Regions from separate parts of the Homo sapiens genome. Here all the other regions are reported to be linked to region 3. The links are microRNA targets in miRTarBase. Many come from high-throughput screens and were not tested one by one. Region 3 holds a microRNA gene; each other region holds the end of a gene's coding sequence.
What was found. Region 3 holds the annotated microRNA hsa-miR-125a-3p (ACAGGUGAGGUUCUUGGGAGCC, at 2,263-2,284, opposite strand). A microRNA usually pairs through its seed, bases 2 to 8, with sites in the 3' UTR of a target mRNA and lowers its output. Matches are read on the target gene's strand: a 7mer-m8 pairs with bases 2 to 8, a 7mer-A1 pairs with bases 2 to 7 and ends in A, and an 8mer does both.

Region 1: the mRNA of RANGAP1 is a reported target of hsa-miR-125a-3p. Seed matches in the 3' UTR shown: 7mer-A1 at 2,189-2,195.
Region 2: the mRNA of HPCAL1 is a reported target of hsa-miR-125a-3p. Seed matches in the 3' UTR shown: 7mer-A1 at 2,321-2,327.

The regions. Positions count from the first base shown.
Region 1 is chr22:41,244,109-41,247,108 of GRCh38, forward strand. It overlaps RANGAP1 (Ran GTPase activating protein 1), which reads right to left. Exons shown (of 16, transcript NM_002883.4): 16 at 671-2,564. The coding sequence ends at 2,495. Among named protein-coding and RNA genes, the nearest start is that of CHADL, 4.7 kb to the left of the region's middle.
Region 2 is chr2:10,426,309-10,429,308 of GRCh38, reverse strand. It overlaps HPCAL1 (hippocalcin like 1), which reads right to left. Exons shown (of 5, transcript NM_002149.4): 5 at 1,705-2,585. The coding sequence ends at 2,488. Among named protein-coding and RNA genes, the nearest start is that of SNORA80B, 19 kb to the left of the region's middle.
Region 3 is chr19:51,692,187-51,695,589 of GRCh38, reverse strand. It overlaps MIR125A (microRNA 125a), which reads right to left and starts at 2,336; the gene lies at 2,251-2,336. It overlaps SPACA6 (sperm acrosome associated 6), which reads right to left and starts at 2,260. Exons shown (of 9, transcript NM_001316972.2): 1 at 1,850-2,260; 2 at 1,035-1,112. The coding sequence starts at 2,063. It overlaps SPACA6-AS1 (SPACA6 antisense RNA 1), which reads left to right and starts at 2,134. Exons shown (of 2, transcript NR_108100.1): 1 at 2,134-2,956. MIR99B (microRNA 99b) reads right to left here and starts at 2,978; the gene lies at 2,909-2,978. It also overlaps MIRLET7E.

The DNA.
Region 1 (3,000 bases), not on the chromosome of region 3:
GCAGTGAGCCGAGATAGAAGCTGGGCAACATGAGACCCTGTTTGAAAAAAATTAAAGTTATCCCCCCCACCCATATATATATACAGAGAGAGTTTAGGCAATTATTTTCTCCCTGTCTGTAAGTTGCCTTTGTACTCCTTAATGAGTATTTTGATAAACAGAAACCTGTTCTCACTGCTACATCATTTCCATTGTGTGAACATCCCACGATAATGGCAAAGGAGGTTAAATACAGCTTAATTTATTCATCTTTTCCTCACTCCTAAGGCCTTGAAGATACTCACTTACACTATCTCCTACAAGCTCTCTCTCTCTTTTTTGAGACAGGGTCTCGCTGTCAGTCATGCTGGAGTGCAGTGGCACGATCACGGCTTGCTGCAGCATCCACTTCTTGGGCTCAGGTGATCCTCCCACCTCAGGTTCCCAAGTAGCTGAGACTACAGGCATGCATCACCACACCCAGCTCATTTTTGTATTTTTAGTAGAGACAGGGTTTTGCCATGTTGGCCAGGCCAGTCTTGAATTCCTGGGCTCAAGTGATCTGCCCGCCTCGTCCTCCCAAAGTGCTAGGATTACTACAGGCGTGAGCCACCACACCCGGGTGAAGCTCTATAGTTTTGCTTAATTTTTAAAACATTAACTGAGGTAAAATATATTAATACATGAAATCTATCATTTTAACCATTTTTATGTGTACAATTCAGTGCATTAAGTACATTCACAATGTTATGCAACCATCACCACTCTCCATTTCCAGAACATCTTCATCATCCCAGAGAATCTGTTTGCAGCCTCACTCCCTATTCCACCCTTCCCCTAGCCCTGGCAACCTCTACCTTCTTGTCTCTGAATTTGCTTATTCTAGATGCCTCATCTAAATGGAATCATATTTGTCCTTTTGTGTCTGGCTTATTTCATTTAACATGTTTTCAAAGTTCATCCACGTTGTAGCTGGCATCAGAACTTAATGCCAGCCCCACACCCACCCCCTACCGTATCAACTCACACAGAAGACAGGGGACAGGGCCAGCAGTATCCTCTGCCACCTGGTCACCTACGTGGCCGACTGCCAATGAGAAAATATTGCCCTCTAAGAAACCTTGGAGGGACTTCTTGGAGGCCGTTTGTGGGGGACATGGGCTCCCAAAGCACATACATGGTGTAGGGTAGGAGGTAAGGAAGGTTGGCTGGGCTGTCCTCACATATGTGGCAGTGGAGCAAAGGATCCCAAGGGAGGTGGCTTCCATAGTGAAGGAGCAACGCAGAAGCCAAGCGAGCTGCAGCCCAAAGGCAGGGTGCTGGGTGAGGTGTGGCCAGGCAGGAAAATGGGCCCCCACTCAGGACTGCCACTTCCCAGGTAGTGGCCTGAGGCCGAGGCCGGGCCCTTCTGCAGGGCTGACTGCCCCACAGACTGCTGCGGGGCCGCATGCTCTGCCGAGGTGGGACTCCACGTACAACGGCCCCCGAGACTATCCCGCTTTCAGTGAGAGTTTCTGAGTCTCTGAAGCTGCCACACGACTTTATTTGTGAAGCCCCCGGGCACAGCCCAGACACACACAGAGCACAAAGGGGAAAGCATGGGGCAGTCACGGGTGCTCAGGGAGGTCATACAGCATCTGCCCAGTCCAGACCCTACCGCTCCCCTGCCCCAGGAGGTCCTTTAAGAGCAGCGTCCAGATGCAGCTCGGACATTGGGGACCCTGCCTCTCCCTCCCCAGACTGGAGAACAGCTTTGGGTTGTCAACACTCCCCCTCCAGCCAGGCCAGTCACAGACGACATCTCAGCAGCCAGGAGAAGGCCCACTAGGTCCGGGGCCAGCGCAGTCCCAGCAGCTCCTGCTCCTGGACAATCTGGTGTCTGCCTGTCCACACGGTGTGGGGCCCAGGGTTGCCCTCTGCCAACAACCCCACGATCCGACCCCCACAGTCCCACCCATGGCATTCTCTGCTCTTCAGGCTGAGCGGTCAGCACAGTGGTATGGATGGTAGGGGTGACAGCTGCCGCAGGACCAGGGCTTGGTGACGAGAAGCAGCCCCAGGCAGGGCAGGAAACAACCCAATCACAACACAGAGGGGAAGGACAGCACGCGGGCAACTCCCTGGGTTCTGGCTCCGCCAGGGAGCCGGGCCGGAAGGCAGGTGGGTGGGGACGGCCATCAGGGCCCAGGCGGAGATCAGCAGAGCGCCCTCAGGTGGAGGTGAGTTTAATGGCGGAGCAGCTCACAGCCCTTTCCCCTGGGGGCCAACTCCCCACAACAGAGCAGGGCTGGGCCAGCAGAAGACGTTAAAACCCAAATCCCGACAGGAGGCACAGACCTGCACATGCGCCACACCCACACACATACTCAGGGGACTGACAGGACACATGGGACACAGACCCGCCCTGCCTGTGGCCAGAGTCCTGTCCAAGGCAATGGCGTAGGCTGCGCCTCAGTTCATCCGAGTCCCTCCCCAGCTCACTGGTCCAGGCCAAGGGATGGGAGAGGCTTTGAGTCTAGACCTTGTACAGCGTCTGCAGCAGACTGTGGCGGGCGAAGGAGCAGGATTCCAGGGCGCTGTTGGGCCTGCGGGGAAAGAGGGGTCAGCAGGTCGGTGGATGCCTCTTGGCCTGTTTTCCAAGTGTGGGGGCCATTTTGGTGCCAGACTCATTTTTGTTAATTTGCACAACGACTCAGCAAGAGAGACATTAGCCCTCTGCCTTCTGCACACCGTGGGTGGGGATGGGAGGTGCGAGAGGCTCAGAGAGCCAGGCACCCAACGCCACACAGCCCAGAGCTGGCCAGAATGAAGGCCCCCTCAGCCAGGCTCTCCAAGGGCCCTTCCAGCAGACATAGGCCAGGGAATCCTTACTGGCTGCCAGTGGCCACATAGGACTGGCCCACTAGAGTCCAATCTGGATCATAAGTAAATGGCTAGCCATTGTTTTTTTGGTTGCTTTTTTTCTTTTTCTTTTTCTTTTTTTTTTGAGACGGAGTCTCGCTCTGTCACCCAGGCTGGAGT
Region 2 (3,000 bases), not on the chromosome of region 3:
TTCACCCACCCATCCCCTCACCCACTCATCCATACATCCATCCATCCATCCATCCACCCACCCACCCACCCATCCATCCACCCACCCCTCCCATCCATGCATGTCTCCTATCAGTTCTGTTCCTGGAGAACCCTGACTAATGTAGTGGTCACTCCCATCTGTTTCTGTTGGACTCTGTCCCCATCATAAGTGAGCCCTCCCCACAACAAGCACTCTTGATTTAACCTTTGCCAGTCCCAGTTAAATGTTTATAAAATTCAAGCCGTTCACTGGCTGTTCTTCCAGGTGAGGCAGTGTTGCCAAAGGCACCGTCTTGCCTCTTTGTAGCAAGCTAGATCTGCCCAGGGCACCTGGCCTCCATCTCGCACCCCACCTGGTTCCCCCATCAAGGCTTGGTGGCTCTGGGTGCATGGAGAGTTTTACTATGAAATAGCTCTAGCAGTGCCATTGACTCAGAAGGCACTTGGCAAACAGACTCACCATTTCTATTAAAAGAGACATGGAGTCTTAAAAAATATTAAAATGACTAAAATCAACAAATTAGCTGCTGTTGCTGAAGGCCTGCTGGGAGGCAGGTTCCAAGCCATGCGCTTTGCATATGTGACCTTGAGCCACCCAGCTCCCCCCATCCCCTACAGTGAAGACACTGAGGCACAGAGGAGCCGACAGCAGCAGGCAGGTGGGCAGACGCCGTAGTGCCCGTCCTGGTAATAGAACCTCCATTCCACTCACCCCTTCCCAACCCTATGCCCTCTGGGGGAGGCAGATGCCACCTTGGCCAAGGGCCATCTTGACCAGCGTAAGCCAGCCGTGGCCATGACATGGTCATCTTGTGAACACAGGCCATGGTTTCAGCCATGAGATGTGGGGCTGGTGGGGACGGGGTGGTGGGCAGATTCTGGAGGGTTTTCCTGTCCCTCAGTGGGAGGACAGAGGCTTCTCTCCCTGCCTCTTGATGCTCCCATGTCAGCTGTACTGCCCAGAACCACAACAGCAGTTGTAGGCACCCCAGGAAGACAAGCCTGAGGTGAAAAGCTGACTGTGATTAGGAGGCGCAGTGCTGTTCACCCGAGGTCCCAGCTACTCAGGAGGCTGATGCGAAAGGATTGCTGGAGCCCAGGAGGTTGAGGCCAGCCTGGGCAACATAGAGAGACACTCTCTCTTAAAAAAAGAAAAAAAAAAAGACAAGCTGATGCCTGGGGATCCCCAGCGATGCTGCCTTTGGATCCCTTGGCAGGCGAGACCAACCAACCCCCACTTCTTCAGCTGGGCCTTCTGCTGCTGGGACCAGAAGCACTGACGGCAGCGGCGAAGGCTGGATGGAGAACCAGGCCTGCCACCTCTGGGTCCAGCCTGACTGCACCCTTGGCTATGCCCGTCCTCTCTTGGAATGTGGCTTTCCTACGACCTGAAACCGTGGAAGGAGAAGGAGAGGGAAGGGCTGGGGGGAGGCAGAAGCCTGACCGTCAGATCTGCCAAGAACAGTCATCGTTTATTTCCACGAGTATTTCTTGGCATTAGGCAGATATTGAAGAACAGGCTGTGCAAGATTTATAAACGCGGGGACAGCTGGAGGGACGTAAGAGGGGCCGGATTTACCAACAGCGGTGGCACGCAGCACACCCGCCTTGCCTGGAGAGTGCAGGGGCCACGGCCTGAGGAATGGGGGCTCCCGCGGGCAGACGCAAAACTCAGAAAATGCCATTTATTTTATCATTTTAATACCGGAAATGCCAGACCAATCAACAGGGAGGACAGACCAGACACAAATGCCTGTGCTCACAACACGGATGGGAGGATCATCACGGCTCAGGGCACACATGCATTTCCTTAGAAACAGGCAGACAAAGAGAGCATAAATACCACACAACAGCCAGGCTCAGGGGGCTGCGGGCCACAGAGGGCTGCGCTTCAAAGGCAGTCAGAGGCATTAAATACGGGACCTACACAATACACTCCACTTCACCATACATAATTTATATATTAAAAGAAAGGGGACCACAGTATCTATACGTGCAAGCGGCTGTGGTGGAGAAAATGAACGGGGGGGCAGCCATGCACGGGAGGGGCTCCCTGTATACCCTCCCGACGCCTCGTCCCCACCCTTCCCACAGAGTCACTTGGGATCACAAAACGCATGGGCCGGCCGGGGCGCAGCCTCGGGAGGTCCTGCCTGGTCTCCTCGGCATGGACCTCTGAGCTCCCCGTGAGCCGGGAGGTGCCTGGAACCAAGAACACTTGAACCCTGCATGTCACCACATCCCTGGGAGTTGCCCTGGAAGGGACCGGGCCAGGCGTGAGGGGAGGAATGTCGCGTTGGTCAGGTGGAGGAGGGAGGCGCAGCCACCGGGCTGGGCAGGTGCAACGCATGCCCCAGGCCCGGGGCCCGGGAGAGCAGGAACGATTGCGGGGCATCCACTCTTGCAAGCAAAGCTTAAACGGCACGACAAGCCTGTGTTTCTCTGCAACTGTCCAGGGGCCGCTCGCTCAGAACTGACTGGCACTGCTGGGGTCGCACTGCAGCAGGCGGACGATGGAGGGGTCGCTCTTGGCACCTCTGATGAATTCTTCCAAGGACAGTTTGCCTGCAGGGGACCAGAGACAATGGGATTAGCCAGTGCTCACTGTTCTTTATGCTTCCAGAGAGGATGGGGACAGCTCTCAGGTCAGGTATGCTCCCTTTGTTGAAAGTCCTGAGCCTTCTTGAAGCTGGACGGTGTCTAGTCTCCATTCACTTTACAGGCATTTCTGAAAAAAAATCCTTTTTCCTTTCCCTGCTCCCTGCAATACATCAGGTACCTCAAAGGGCTTACCCAGCAAGCTCAGCAGGACGTGGCTGATGAGGGCCATTTAAATCCTTTTAGAAATCACCCCACACTTCGCTTATTAAGGAACGTGTACACTGTGCAGAAAAATGAAGCATTTGCCTCTAACCCATACAGAATCCAGGCTGAGAAGGCCATGCTGGTTGGGGGCCCCCGGAAGCACGGTCCGGATCCT
Region 3 (3,403 bases):
ATGGGGAGAGCCACAGCTGAGGCCTTCTCCAGGCTGGCCCTGGATGCCCCCTGGGTGGATGGGAACCTTCCCTCTTCCGGGATTGTTGACAGGACGCTTGGAGGGCAAAGCAGGAAGCAAAAGGAGCGACTGTGGGTGTGGGAATAAGCCCTGAGCTCCTGGACCTAAGAGGAAGCCAGTTTATTCTATAGCGCAGGGCTCTGTAACTCCTGCAACTCCGAGCCTCCACAGTTCCAGGGTCTGGCACCTCGTGGGGATCATGGCCATGGTGATCAGGCATGATTACCGCCCATGCTGCCCATCGGCATTGCGTGGCCCCCAGCCCTGAGGTCTCTTCGCACAGCCACACACCTCAAGGCTGTCACATGTGCCTGTCTCACCAGGACAGTCACACCTTGTCTCTTTTCACTGCTGTCACCTGAGTGATCCACTCTGCTGTTCCTGTTTTCCCGCCCTCTAATTGCCTCACACCTCAAAAATGTGGAATCACTTTATAAGAAATCTGTGTGTGTGTGTGAGTGTGAGTGTATGTCTCTGAGCGTGTCTGTGTGCGAGTGTGTGTGTGTTCTATCCTAGAGGAAGATGCCTTCCCTAAGATCAGGCTCATCAGGCAGCCCCAACCCCTGCACTGAGCTCCATGGCCATCCTAGGAGGCAAGAAGATTGTCCCACTTTACAGATGGGTAAGTTGAGGCCAGGAGAGGGGCAGTGACACACCCAGAACTTCATAGCCAGTAAGAGTGTGAGCCATGCAGCCATGGCAGAACCTATGCCTACCCGACCCCATCTGGACTTCCAGCTCTAGGCAATTTCTGCAGCGTCCCTTCCCCCTCACCACCTTCAGCCCCTGGCTCTTAGAGCTGCCTTCAGCCTTCGTTTGGACAAGTAGCTGAGCTCAATGTCTTCCCAGCTTTCCCCTCCCGGATCACTGCCCAACTCTGGGGGCCTCCTTCCTCTGCCCTGGGCCCTCCCACATACCCATTTCTTAGGGGCTCCAAGTCCACATCTCCCATCTCCCCATCCCCACACACTCACCCTGGGCAGCAGCCAGCTCCTGCAGGGCATGGGTCATCTGGGTGAAGGTGTCATGCAGGTGGCTTCTCTCATCATAGTCTGGCGGTGAGGGAGGGAGCAGGGGCTGGGGGAGGCAGCTCCCCGCAACACCATGTCCCTAATGCGAACATTCTGTTTCTGAGTCTCTGCCCTCCCAAGTCTGTATCCTCCCCTCTCTGACTCTTTGCCCCACAGTCGCTATGCTTCCTGAGTCCCTCCCAAGTCTCTATCCTCCCTGAGTCTCTGCCCCCGACCAGTCGCTATCCTGCTTCCCCTAGTCTCTGCCTCATCTCTGTCCTCCTCTCTCTGGGTTTCCATCCTCTTTGAGTCTCCATCTTCCACCCTCTGAGTCTCCATCCTCCCCTCTCTGGGTCTCTATTCCCTCTCCAGTCTCCAACCTCTCCTGACTCTCCATCCTCCCCTTTCTATGAGTCTCCATCCTCCTGACTCTCCATCCTCCCGAGTGTCCATCCTCCCCTCTCTGACTCTCCATACTCCTGAGTCTCCATCTTTCCGAGTCTCCATCTTCCTCTCTCTCTGAGTCTCCATCCTCCCCCTCTCTGAGTCTCCATCTTCCCCTCTCTGACTCTCCATCCTCCCCTCTCTGAGTCTTTGCCCTGCTGTCTTCCCCTGTCTGTGTCTCTCTGTCCCTAAGTCTCTGTTGTTCTCATGGTCTTTGAGCCTTTCTCCTCTGACTGTTTCTCTCTGTCTGTCCCTCAGCCTGACCCTCTGGGCCTCTCCTGCCCTCCCTCTGCACCTTCCCCAGGACACTGATGAAGTGTGGATGGTCTCCTCACTGATTTCGGTGTCAGAGAGGCCCTGGAAGGCGGCCGTGAAGGCCTCCTCACACTCTTCAAGCTTGGGGCTCCGCATCCCAACAAACATCTGGCAGATGCGGAGGCGCTCAGAGTAGGTTGTGAAGCAGAGGAGACAGGCCCAGGCGGGCACCCTGAAGACAGCCAGGGCCAGCAGGGCAGACGGGACGGCACTGGCCAGAGCCAGCAGGGCCATCGTGTGGGTCTCAAGGCCAGGGGAGAAGCTAGTAACCTTTATGAAGTCACCACAGGGCGGGGGAAGGGCCAGTGGTCTGGGGTCAGAGGTCAGGTTTCAGTTGGTGGTCAAATGTCATGCTCTGGAGGAAGGGTATGAGGAGTCAGGGGTCAGAAGTCAGGCCAGCAATTCCCCAGGTGTGTGGTTGGGCCAGACGCCAGGCTCCCAAGAACCTCACCTGTGACCCTGGATGTCCTCACAGGTTAAAGGGTCTCAGGGACCTAGAGACTGGCAACATGGTGTGCGGTGGCCCGGTAGACCCTGGGGTGGGGGTCAGAGATGGAGATAGGCACAGAGACATTCTGAGAGCCAGAGACAGAAAGACCAAAAACGACAGAAATAGAGACACAGAGAGATATCGGGAGGGGCAGAGACCTAGAAAGCCAGAATAAGAGGGAGTCAGAGGATCCACTGTGAAAGAGACACAGAAGCCACAGAGACACAGCAGAGATGGAGACAGACAGGGAAGGAAAACAGATTTCAGGGGAAGGAGGGGATGCAGGGACAAGGACAGAAAAGAGCCCGGCTCTTCCTCCCAGGGTCCCTGGGGCAGCCCAGTGGGGCTAAGGGTCCCTGAGTGGGGCTGGGGGTCCCCGCCGGGCCCCGTCCCGTGCAGGGCGCAGCCTGGGGAAAGCTAGGAGGCCGTATAGTGATCTCCTTGGGTGTCCTCCTCAACTATACAACCTCCTACCTCAGCCCGGGGGGCGCGGCAGGTGGACAGACCCGACAGACAGACAGACAGGGACCAGGAGGACCAGGGATGAGGGGGAGGGCCGGGGAGGCCCCAGCCGCGATGGTGAGCCCCCGACACGGACCCACAGACACGAGCTTGTGTGCGGCGAAGGCCCCGCAAGGTCGGTTCTACGGGTGGGTGCCAGGACCCAGGAGTCCGGGCCCCCGGCCCCTCCTCCCCAAGGAACCCAGGAGTCCAGGCCCTCAGCCCCTTCCTCATCAGGGACCCTGGAGTCAAGGCTCTCATCCCCCTCCTCCCTAAAGAACCCAGAAGTCTAGGCCCTTCCTCACCACAGACCCAGGAATCCAGGCCTCTGGCCCTTTTCTCCCCAAATGTTCCTGGAATCCAAGGACTCAGCCCCTTCCTCCCTCAGACTCATGAGTCCAGATCCAAAGCCTCCTTCTCCCCAGAGACCCAGGAGTCCCTGCCCCCAGCCCCTCCTCCCTCCGGCCAGGCAGGCCTCCTGGGGAAGGCATGGCCTGATAGAAAACCTGGCTTCCTGGGTGCCGGCTGGGAGGGAACCTCATTTGTCTCGTAATTTGGCCCTTTGGGCACACCTGCTTCCTAC